Homo sapiens: one gene and its partner. The protein of the gene in region 1 purifies or fractionates together with the protein of each later gene. This does not show direct contact. Each region holds a gene or a part of one and is shown in the gene's direction. Other genes may lie near its edges.

What was found. Proteins that work in one complex are often made in the same cells at the same time.
Region 2: the proteins of AGBL4 (region 1) and ZNG1C purify together in Homo sapiens (affinity purification with mass spectrometry; one large-scale study listed by BioGRID and IntAct). This does not show direct contact.

The regions. Positions count from the first base shown.
Region 1 is NC_000001.11:50,013,160-50,018,523, reverse strand, and holds part of AGBL4 (cytosolic carboxypeptidase 6), read left to right. Parts: intron 1-5,364. UniProt on the Homo sapiens protein: Metallocarboxypeptidase that mediates protein deglutamylation of tubulin and non-tubulin target proteins.
Region 2 is NC_000009.12:68,247,517-68,252,880, forward strand, and holds part of ZNG1C (zinc-regulated GTPase metalloprotein activator 1C), read left to right. Parts: intron 1-96; coding exon 97-193; intron 194-1,289; coding exon 1,290-1,381; intron 1,382-5,364.

The DNA.
Region 1 (5,364 bases):
TTATTAGTTGTTAAATTTCAGCAATGGAGTATTAATTTTAATACAGATTTAAGGAAAAATTTCATTCTTAGATGAATTTGATGTTTCTCATTATAAAAATTATTGCAAGTTTAAAAGCTTGCAGTACTTCATTGATAGTGTTCACCATATTGGAATATGCTAATCTTTGCTTTTTATATTCCTCATTTATTTAATGGGATCCATAAAACAAATTTCTCTTTTTTAAAACTTCAAAGGAAGATGTTTTTATTTGTCATATGTATTTAAGAACTGTTGGGTGTATACTTTTGAGTCTCTAAACAGACTTGGAAAAAAGTGTACTTTCATGTCATCTGAAGGAAAACAAAGCAATGAAACACAAAAAGACTTCTAAAATTTTATATAGGATTGAAAACTTTTATATAAGATTGTCAATTCCTAAATAAATATTTTGAAAAATATTATAGAAATAAATCTCTTGGGGAAGGGACATCAAAAACAACCTGCCAATAATTACAGTTTGCTTGTCTTTCTTTCAGGAGTAATAGATGAATCTCTGTGTCTTGGCTTTGTGGAAGAAATTACTATTATGGGCTGTGTTACTTTATTTATGTATTTATGTATGTTTGTATTTTTATTTTATTCCATTTCAACTTTTATTTTAGGCTCATGGGGTACATACACAGGTTTGTTATATGGATAAATTGCATGTTGCTGGGGTTTGGTGTACAGGTTATTTCATCACCCAGCTAATAAGCATAGTATCCAACAGGTGGTTTTTCAACCCTCACCCTCCTGCCCCTCTCTACCCTAAAGCAGGTCTTGGTGTCTTTTGTTCCCTTCTTTGTCTCCATGTGTAATTAGTGTTTAGCTTCCACTTATAAGTGAGAACATGCGGTACTTGGTTTTCTGTTCCTGCGTTAATTCCCTTAGTATAATGGCCTCCAGCTCCACCTATGTTGCTGCAAAGGACATGATCTTGTTTCTTTATATGGCTTTCTTTTTTATGTGTAGTATTCTGTGGTATATATGTATATAATAATTGAGGAGTAGGCTAGGATTTTCGCAGTTGTATTTGATTGAGTCCTCCTCAACTGCCCACTATAATGGATAGGATTGTGATAGATAGGCGGATGTTCATGTTTATTGATGGGAAAATTTGAAATATAATCGAGATAGGGGCTAGTTTTTGTCATGTAAGGAGAAGTATGCCAGATATTAGAGAAGTTCCTTGGGTCCTCTCTGGGACTCAGAAGTGAAAGGGGGCTATTCCTAGTTTTATTACTAGGGCCGTTATTATTATTAAGGATGAAAATTGATTAATAGTATTTATTATTGTTCATTGTCCAGAAGACAGGTTATTGGAAATGATAGCTATCATGAGAATTATAGATGTGGTTGCTTGTGTAAAGAAATATTTGCTGATGGCTTCTGTAGAGCGGGGATTTATTTTATGTATATATATATATATCACATTTTCTTTTCCCTGTCCACTGTTGATGGGCTTTGGGTTGATTCCATGTCTTTCCTATTGTGAATAGTGTGGCGATGAACGTATGTGTGCATGTGTCTTTATGGTAGAACAATTTAGATTTCTTTGGGTATATACTCAGTAGTGGGATTGCTAGATCAAATGGTAGTTCTAAGTTCTTTGAGAAATCTCCAAAGTGCTTTCTACAGCAGCTGAACTAATTTATATTCCTATTAACTATGTGTATGTGTTCCCCTTTCTCTGCAGCCTCTCCAGCATCTGTTGCTTTTTGACTTTTTAGTAATAGCCATTCTGACTGGTGTGAAATGGTATTTCACTGTGGTTTTGATTTGCATTTCTCCAATAATTAGTGATGTTGAGCATTTATCATATGCTTGTTGGCCGCATGTATGTGTGTGCTGAGCATTGCTTGTTGGCCACATATATGTCTTCTGAGAACTGCCTGTTCATCTCCTTTGCCCGCTTTTTATTATTTTTATTTATTATTTTTTGAGACAAAGTCACACTCTGTCACCTAAGATGGAGTACAGTGGCACAATCTTTGCTCACTGCAATCTCTGCCTCCTGGGTTCAAGTGATTGTCCTGCCTCAGCCTCCTGAGTAGCTGGGATTACAAGCACACACCACCATGCCTGGCTAATTTTTGTGTTTTTTAGTAGAGGTGGGTTTTGCCATGTTGGCCAGGCTGGTCTGGAACTCCTGACCTTAGGTGATCTGCCCACCTTGGCCTCCCAAAGTGATACGATTACAGGCATGAGCCACCACGCCCAGCCTGTTAATTTGTTTAAGTTCCTTATAGATTCTGGATATTAGACCTTAGTTGAATGCATAGTTTGCAAAAGTTTTCTCCCATTCTGTAGGTTGTCTGATTACTCTGTTGATAGTTTCTTTTGCTGTGCAGAAGCTCTTTAGTTTAATTAGGTCACACTTGTCAATTTTTGTTTTTGTTGCAGTTGCTTTTCATGTCTCCATCATCAAATCTTTGCCAGGGCCTATGTGCAAAATGGTATTTCCCAAGTTTTCTTTAGGGTTTTTACAGTTTTAGTTTTTACATTTAAGTCATTAATCCATCTTGAGTTGATTTTTGTATATGTTTCAATCTTCTTCATGTGACTAGCCAGTTATCCCAGCACTGTTTATTGAATAGGGAGTCATTTCCCTATTGCTTGTTTTTGTCTACTTTGTTGAAGATCAGATAGTTGTAGATGTGCAGCTTTATTTCTGCTTCCTCTGTTCTGTTCCATGGGTCTTTGTGTCTGTTTTTGTACTAGTACCATGCTGTTTTAGTTACTGTAGTGTTGTAGTATAGTTTGAAGTCAGGTAATGTGATGCCTCTGGCTTTGTTTTTTTTGTTTGTTTTTGCTTAGAATTGCTTTGGGTATATTTATTTATGTTTTGAGACAGGGTCTTGCACTGTCATTCAGGCTGCAATACTGTAGAATGATCATGGCTCACTGCAGCCTTGATTTCCCAGCTCAAGTGATGGTCTCATCTCAGCCTCCCAACTGGCTGGAACTACAGGCACATGCCACCACGCATAGCTAATTTTTTAATATTTTGTAGAGGCAAGGTCTCACTCTGTTTCACAGGATTTTTATTTGTTTTTAAAATTACTTGTTTATTCAAAACTATACTGAATACCTTCTATGCATCAAGCATTGTGCTAAACTCTGGAAATTCACAGATGTATTATAAAAAGTCCTTGCCTTCAAGGAGCTCCTATCCTAGTGGAGGAGAAATAGAGCTAGAAAATTATCATTCAGGCAACATAGAGTTGTACACAGAATTCTGAGGCCAGAGAACGGTTCCCTGACAGCCTGGGGGTAGTGGTCGTAGTTCAAGAAGGTGTCTTAGATTAGAATAAGGGACACATTAATTGAGTCTTGAATGATGAGAAGGAATTAGCCCAGTGGAAGTGGTAGGCAGAAGTGTGGAGAGAAGGAATGAAGGGCAGAGAAAACAACATGTGCATCACAAACTTGTGGAGGTGAGAGAATAATGCTCACTTAGAATGTTGTTAAAATTGCACACCTATTAACAGAGCTAAAGACTATATTTCTTCCTTTCTCCTCAGATTCTTAAACATTTCTGGAGTCATAGATTCCCTTGATTAACTGATAAAAACCAATGAATTCTTCCTCATGGAAATGCACAGTACGTGCAAGCACACAAAAATTTGAAATGATTTCAAGGTATGAAATCCTGAAGCTCAAATTAAAAATCCTTTTGGCTGGGCATGGTAGCTGATGCCTGTAATCCCAGCACTTTGGGAGGCCAAGGCAGGTGGATCACCTGAGGTCAGGAGTTCGAGACCAGCCTGGCCAACGTGGTGAATCCCCGTCTCTACTAGATATACAAAAATTAGCCGGGCGTGTTGGCTTGTGCCTGTAGTCCCAGCTACTCAGGAGGTTGAGGCAGGAGAATTGCTTGAGCCTGGGAGGTGGAGGTTGCAGTGAGCTGAGACTATACCATTGCACAGAGCAAGACTCTCTCCAAAAAAAAAAAAAAAAAAAAAAGAAATCCTCTGTTCATTAGTTATGAGGTCTATTTAGGAAACTGATCTTGAAAGTAGGAATACTTTGGTGAAAAGGGTTGATCTAATAACATTTGTATTAGAGCAGGTCCAAAGCAAATGCTGGCCCCTAAATTGTTTTGTTTATCTTTTTCTTTATCTTTTTTTTTTTTCGAGACAAAGTCCCACTTGGCCAGGCTGGAGTGCAGTAGTGTGATCTTGGCTCACTGCAGCCTCCACCTCCTGGGTTCAAGTGATTCTCCTACCTCAGCCTCCCAAGTAGCTGGGACTACAGGTGCATGCCACCACGCCCAGCTAATTTTTGTATTTTTAGTAGTGACAGGGTTTCACCGTGTTGGCCATGATGGTCTCGATCTCTTGACCTCGTGATCTGCCTGCCTCAGCCTCCCAAAGTGTTGGGATTACATGTGTGAGCCACCACACCTGGCCTTTAAAACCTCATTTGGATGTATCTGTCTCTGTTGACAGTGTGACATAATAAATAGGGCATGGATTTTGAAATTACAAAGATAAGATTTAAAACATTCAACTCTACCAATTAATGTGTAATAGTGTTTCTCTAACCCAGTTTTCATGTTTAAATGGAGATACTAGTCCTTTATCAAATAGGGTTGTGAGGTGTATGTAGTGCATATAGTATAGGAGAAACTGTCTTCACTAAGTAATTGGATTAATTGGTGCCTTTCATTCTATTAGACATACAGCTTTATACATGTTTAAAGATCTTCTCCAGTCATGTAACTACCCCAGGTGCTTTAAGAAAACAATTTTATAAATGTATTTGGATGGAACATCAGACCCTGTGTCATAAACATATTAGGAAGAACTTAATAATTTTAATAAAAATTGGAAATATGTTCCTAAGCTGTAATACTGTAACTTCTTATCTTAGTAGTGTCATTACCAATGATGTACCATCACAAGAATAGCAGTGATTATGGGAAATGCTAGTAAACTTTTTGCAGCTTACTAACAATTGTAAATGTTTTAAACTTTCCTATAAAAGACTAGAAAGCTTTTATCTCAGTTTAGGTTTATCAAATTGTGGGGTCTTTAATTTGCATCACACATATTATACAGCTGGATGAAAACCAAATGATTTAATAAAAGTGGTGGGTAATTTTTTATTCTTTTCTCTAATGAGACTGATTCTTTTGCTTCAATTTAATAGAAACTACACATGGTCTAGGACTCAGCTTCACGAGAGAAACTTTCCCCTATATTTTGAGGAAGGACTCATGATCTTATTTACTCTTTTTATTAATTCCTATAACCTGATTTAATAAAGCCCTAAGACAGAGGACTATTTCTTCCTTTAAATTCACATTTGCTAGTTTGGGACTAATTTCGTGTTGTGTTG
Region 2 (5,364 bases), on another chromosome or scaffold:
TCTGCTTTAAGATCTCCATTATTGAGTTATCCTCATCTTTGTTTTTTGTTGGCTAATGGACATAAGCTAAAGAGTGCTGTTTGTTATTTATTCTAGGAAGTGCGCTGGAGAAATCCTTAGCTGTCAGCCAAGGTGGAGAGCTCTATGAAGAGTGGCTGGAACTTAGAAACGGTTGCCTCTGCTGTTCAGTGAAGTGAGGAATGTGTTTACTGTGTACATGGTTTACTAGAAATGTTTATTGATTATATTTCCAGCTTTAATTTTCTTGAGTAATTTAACTGAATTTACACAGTTTGCTTCATTGTATTTTCAAACAAATAGAAAATAAACTTATTAGGAAGCATTTTCTTAAAGTGTTTCTTGCTGTCTTTTCTATCTGCTCTAATGTTTTGGTCCTTTTATTGAGTTTTTATTGCTTTTGATGTCAGGGCTTATTTAATCTCTAGTGCATGAAAGTCTCATATGTAAAAAATGATTATTCTGAATTTAATCTGTCATTGGTCATACTTCTAAGTGTTCAACCTTATAAAAAATAAATGACTATCAAAAAAGAAAAACCTTACATTATGTTCTAGTAGTTAAGTTTCCAAGGACAGTGATCACTAGTCTACCATAGACCCTAGAAGAGTTACCCAACACATAGTAGCACTCAAATATTTGTTGAATGAATTATAAAAATGACTACTTGTATTGTTAATTTTGTGTATTCTAGTGAATTAAATCTCTTCGGCATCATTTACTCCCTTAGGTATTTGACTTTGTGTCAAATGTTTTGGCAAGGATAAAATTATAACAGACTTTCTTGAACAACCAAAATGTAATCTATTAAGGATTTTCCTTCACTTTTGATAAAATAAGAAAAAAGGAATTTAAAACCTTGCATCCTAATGTAAAATAGAATTATATGGTGTTTAATATCAGTGTCCCTTTAGCTATTATATTAAACTACTATAGTTAATAAATTTTATCATTATTTTGTATGTTGGTTTTTAAAAATTTCATAAAGCTATAAAAAGATACTTGGTCAGATAAAGTTTCCTCTGCTTTTAATTTTAATAAAGTATTATTATGTATATGATTTCTTTTTACCTATTATATATATGCATCTATTGTTTTCTCACTGGTAAATATGGGACAGACATTTTGTTAGAAGGTTAGAAGTGAGTTAAATTTTCACATTCCTAAGGATACTTTTGTCTCGGGTTGTTGAATACATTTTAAAGTGTTTATAATAATCACTTCAAAATATTTAGGTAATTAACTGTAAATTATGTTTTGGTATTCTCCAGGGACAATGGCCTTAGAGCTATTGAGAATTTGATGCAAAAGAAGGGGAAATTTGATGACATACTGTTAGAGACCACTGGATTAGCAGACCCTGGTAAGAAGTGAGATTATTAATAACCAGAATATAGTTCTGTGATATATTGTAAATAGATGTATTAGAGGAATATCTAAAATGAGTATTAAAGCTTTTGTTAGTATTAAACCAAAAACTTTTTTTGGTTTAAAAGAGGAAAAGTACTCGTTTGTCATTTTCTTTGGCAGTTGAATGAATGATCAGAGTATTTCTTGGTGCTTTTAAGCTGTTAATAGAATTGGAAGTTTTATTGATTGATTTAGGATTATTTGTAAGAACAGAAGTTGTTAAAAATAAGGACATGTAGGAAGAGCAGAGACGTTCTACTTCTAAGTACAGTTGTCCCTTGGCATCCATGGCGTATTAGTTCCAGAACCTCTGAGGATACCAAAATCTATTAATGTTCAAGTCCCTTACATAAAATGGTGTAGTATTTGCCTATAACCTATGCACATCCTCCCATATACTTTAAATCATCTGTAGATTACTTATAATACCTAATACAATGTAAGTGCTGTGTAAGTAGTTATTATACTGCATTGATAAGGTAATCATGACAAGAAACTCTAAACTCTACTATGGAAAGCTACACAGAGTCAACCTGTTTCTCACAATGGGTTTCTGTTACCTTCTTACCAAGCTCTAATTCTTGATAAAGTCTGCTTATTTTCCCCAAATAACTTTTAGATAAAATCTTTATTTTCAGTTTGCATAAAAGTTAGTGCTTATTCTGTGAATCTGACCCATACCATTATTTTCTTTTTGATCTGGGTCTCTGGCATTGGGGCGATTTGTAAAACTATATTAAAGTATTTGGGGGTAATTTACTAAACAGGTCATAGTTGTCCAAAAGAAATATTGAAGTATCCTGAGAGTTCAAATGTGATCAGTGGTTATTGTACTTAAAACAATTACGTAGTAACATCATCCCCATGTTTTCAAAGTAGTATTGAATTAGGCTATTTTGGTCCTTATAGTAGGCATGGGTTTTCATACCTTTCTGATAAATCTGACTGATGATAGGACTTGGACTAATATGTTGGCGTTAAATATTATTTGAATCTGGTAAGAAAGAATATATTGTATGCTTTTATTAGAAATAGCAAATATCAGTTTATTTCATCATAGCCAGTTTTGCCATTTTATAGACAAAAACTTGATACTTTTGAGAGTTTAATTAAACACTATTCAGCTTTTCAGAGGAAGAAAGAAAAACTAAAGATCACAGAGAAAGCTTTTATACAAATTGTAGTTATAAAAAATGTTAATGTTTCTTGCTTCTAACTTTCTTTACAATAAAGATTTTATTGTTTGGGTAAAGATGGAACATTCATTGTAAAAAAATTTAAATACCTAAAAAATACAAAGAAGAAAGTTGAAAAGTAATCATCTCACTATTGTGATATACAAGTAAGGGCTGGGCATGGTGGCTCATGTCTGTAATCCCAGCACTTTGGGAGGCTGAGGCAGGTGGATCCCTTGAGGCCAGGAGTTCAAGACCAGCCTAGCCAACATGGTGAAATCCAGTCTCTACTGAAAATTCAAAAACTAGCCAGGCGTTGTGGCGCACCCCATAATCCCAGCTACTCAGGAGGCTAAGGCATGAGAATCGCTTGAAAGCTGGGAGGCGGAGGTTATGGTGAGCCGAGATCACGCCACTGCACTCCAGCCCAGGCAACAGAGCAAGACTGTATACACACACACGCACATGCACACGCACACACACACACACACATTCATACACACACACACAAGTAGGTAAATTTTATTCCAGGGATCTCTCTATGCCAGTGCTACTTGGTAGTATGTTGAATGGCAGCCTCAGCCTCAGCTGGGAGCTTGTTAGAAATGCAAATTCTTGACCAACCCAGATCTACTGAATCGGAATCTCTAAGGGAGGGGGTCAAGCAAGCTGTTTTTAATAAGCCCTTCAGGTGATTCTTATACTGTACAGCCATACCGCAGGGATATTGTGGGCTTAGTTCCATATCACTGCAGTAAACTGAATATCACAATAGAGTGAGTCACACACATTTTTTTGTTTCCCATTGCATATAAAAGTTATGCGTTTTGGCCGGGTGTGATGTGACAGGCCTGTAGTCCCAGCTACTTGGATCACTTGAGCTCAGGAGTTTGAGGCTGCAGTGAGTCATGATTGCACCACCGCACTCCAGCCTGGATGACAGCATGAGACCCCATTTCTTAAAAAAAAAAAAAAAAAAAAAAAGCTGTGTTTATACTATACTGTAGTCTATAAAATGTGTAATAGAATTGTCTAAAAAACATACATACCTTAATTAAAAATATTTATTGCTAAAAAATGCTAACGATCATCTCAGCTTTCAGCAAGTCATAATCTTTTTGCTGGTAGAGGGTCTTGCCACAATGTTGATGGGTGCTGACCAATCAGGGTAGTAGTTACTGAAGGTTGGGGTGGCTATCGCAATTTCATAAGATAATAATGAAGTTTGCTGCATTAGTTGACTCTCCCTTTCATAAAAGATGTCTCTATAGCACATGATGCTATTTGATAGCATTTTACCCACAGTATGACTTCTTTCAAAATTGGAGTCAGTCCTCTCAAACCCTGCTTTATCAATTAAGCTTCTGTCATATTTTAAATCCTTTGTTGTCATTTTGACAGTGTTCATAGCATCTTCACCAGGAGTAGATTCCATCTCAAGAAACCACGTTCTTTTCCCGTCCATAAGAAACAACTTCTCATTAGTTAAAGTTTTCTTATGAGATTGCAGGAATTGAGTCACATCTTCAGACTCCCCTTCTAATTCTAGTTCTCTTACTGTTTCCACCATATCTGCAGTTATTTCCTCCGTTGAAGTCTGAAATCCCTCAAAGTCATCTGTGAGGGCTGGAATCATCTTTCAAACTCCTATTCATGTTGATACTTTGATCTCCCATGAATCACGAATGTTCTTAATGGCATCTAGAATGATGAATCCTTTCCAGAAGGTTTTCAATTTACTTTGCCTAGATCCATCAGAGGAATCACTATCTATGGTAGCTATAGCCTTATGAAATATATTTCTTAAATAAGACTTAAAAGTCAAAGTTACTCCTTGATCAGTGGGCTGCAGAATGGATGTTGTGTTAGCAGGCATGAAAACAACATTAATCTCCTTGTACATCTCCATCACAGCTCTTGGGTGATCAGGTGTGTTGTCAATGAGCAATAATATTTTGAAGGAATCTTTTTTTTTCTAAGCAGTAGATCTCAATGGTGGGCTTAAAATAAACCATGCTGTAAACAGATGTGCTGTCATCTAGGCTTTATTATTTATAGAAAACAGGCAGAGGAGATTTAGCATAATTCTTAATGGCCCTAGAATTTTCAGGATGGTAAATGATTATTGGCTTCAACTTGAAGTCACCAGCTGCTTTAGCCTCTAACAAGAGAGTCAGCCTGTCCTTTGAATCTTTGAAGCCAGGCATTGACTTCTCTATAGCTATGAAAGTCCTAAATGGCATCTTCTTCCAAAAGGAGGCCATTTCATCTCCATTAAAAATCTGTTGCTGGCCGGGCTCGGTGGCTCATGCCTGTAATCTCAGCACTTTGGGAGGCCGAGATGGGCAGATCACGAGTTCAGGAGTTTAAGACCAGCCTGGCCAACATAGTGAAACCCCATCTCGACTAAAAATACCAAAAATTAGCCTGGCTTGGTGGTGGGAGCCTGTAATCCCAGTTACTTGGGAGGCTGAGGCAGGAGAATGGCTTGAACCCGGGAGGCGGAGGTGGCAGTGAGCTGAGATTGCACATTGCACTCCAGCCTGGGTGACAGAGCGAGACTCCATCTCAAAATAAATAAATAAATAAATAAAAAATAAGTCTGTTGCTTAGTGTAGCTACTTTCATGAATGATGTTAGCTACATCTTCTAGGTAGTTTACTACAGCTTCTATATCAGCATTTGCTGCTTTCCCTTGCACTTTTATGTTATGGAGATGGCTTCTTTCTTTAAATCTTGTGAACCAACCTCTGCTACCTTC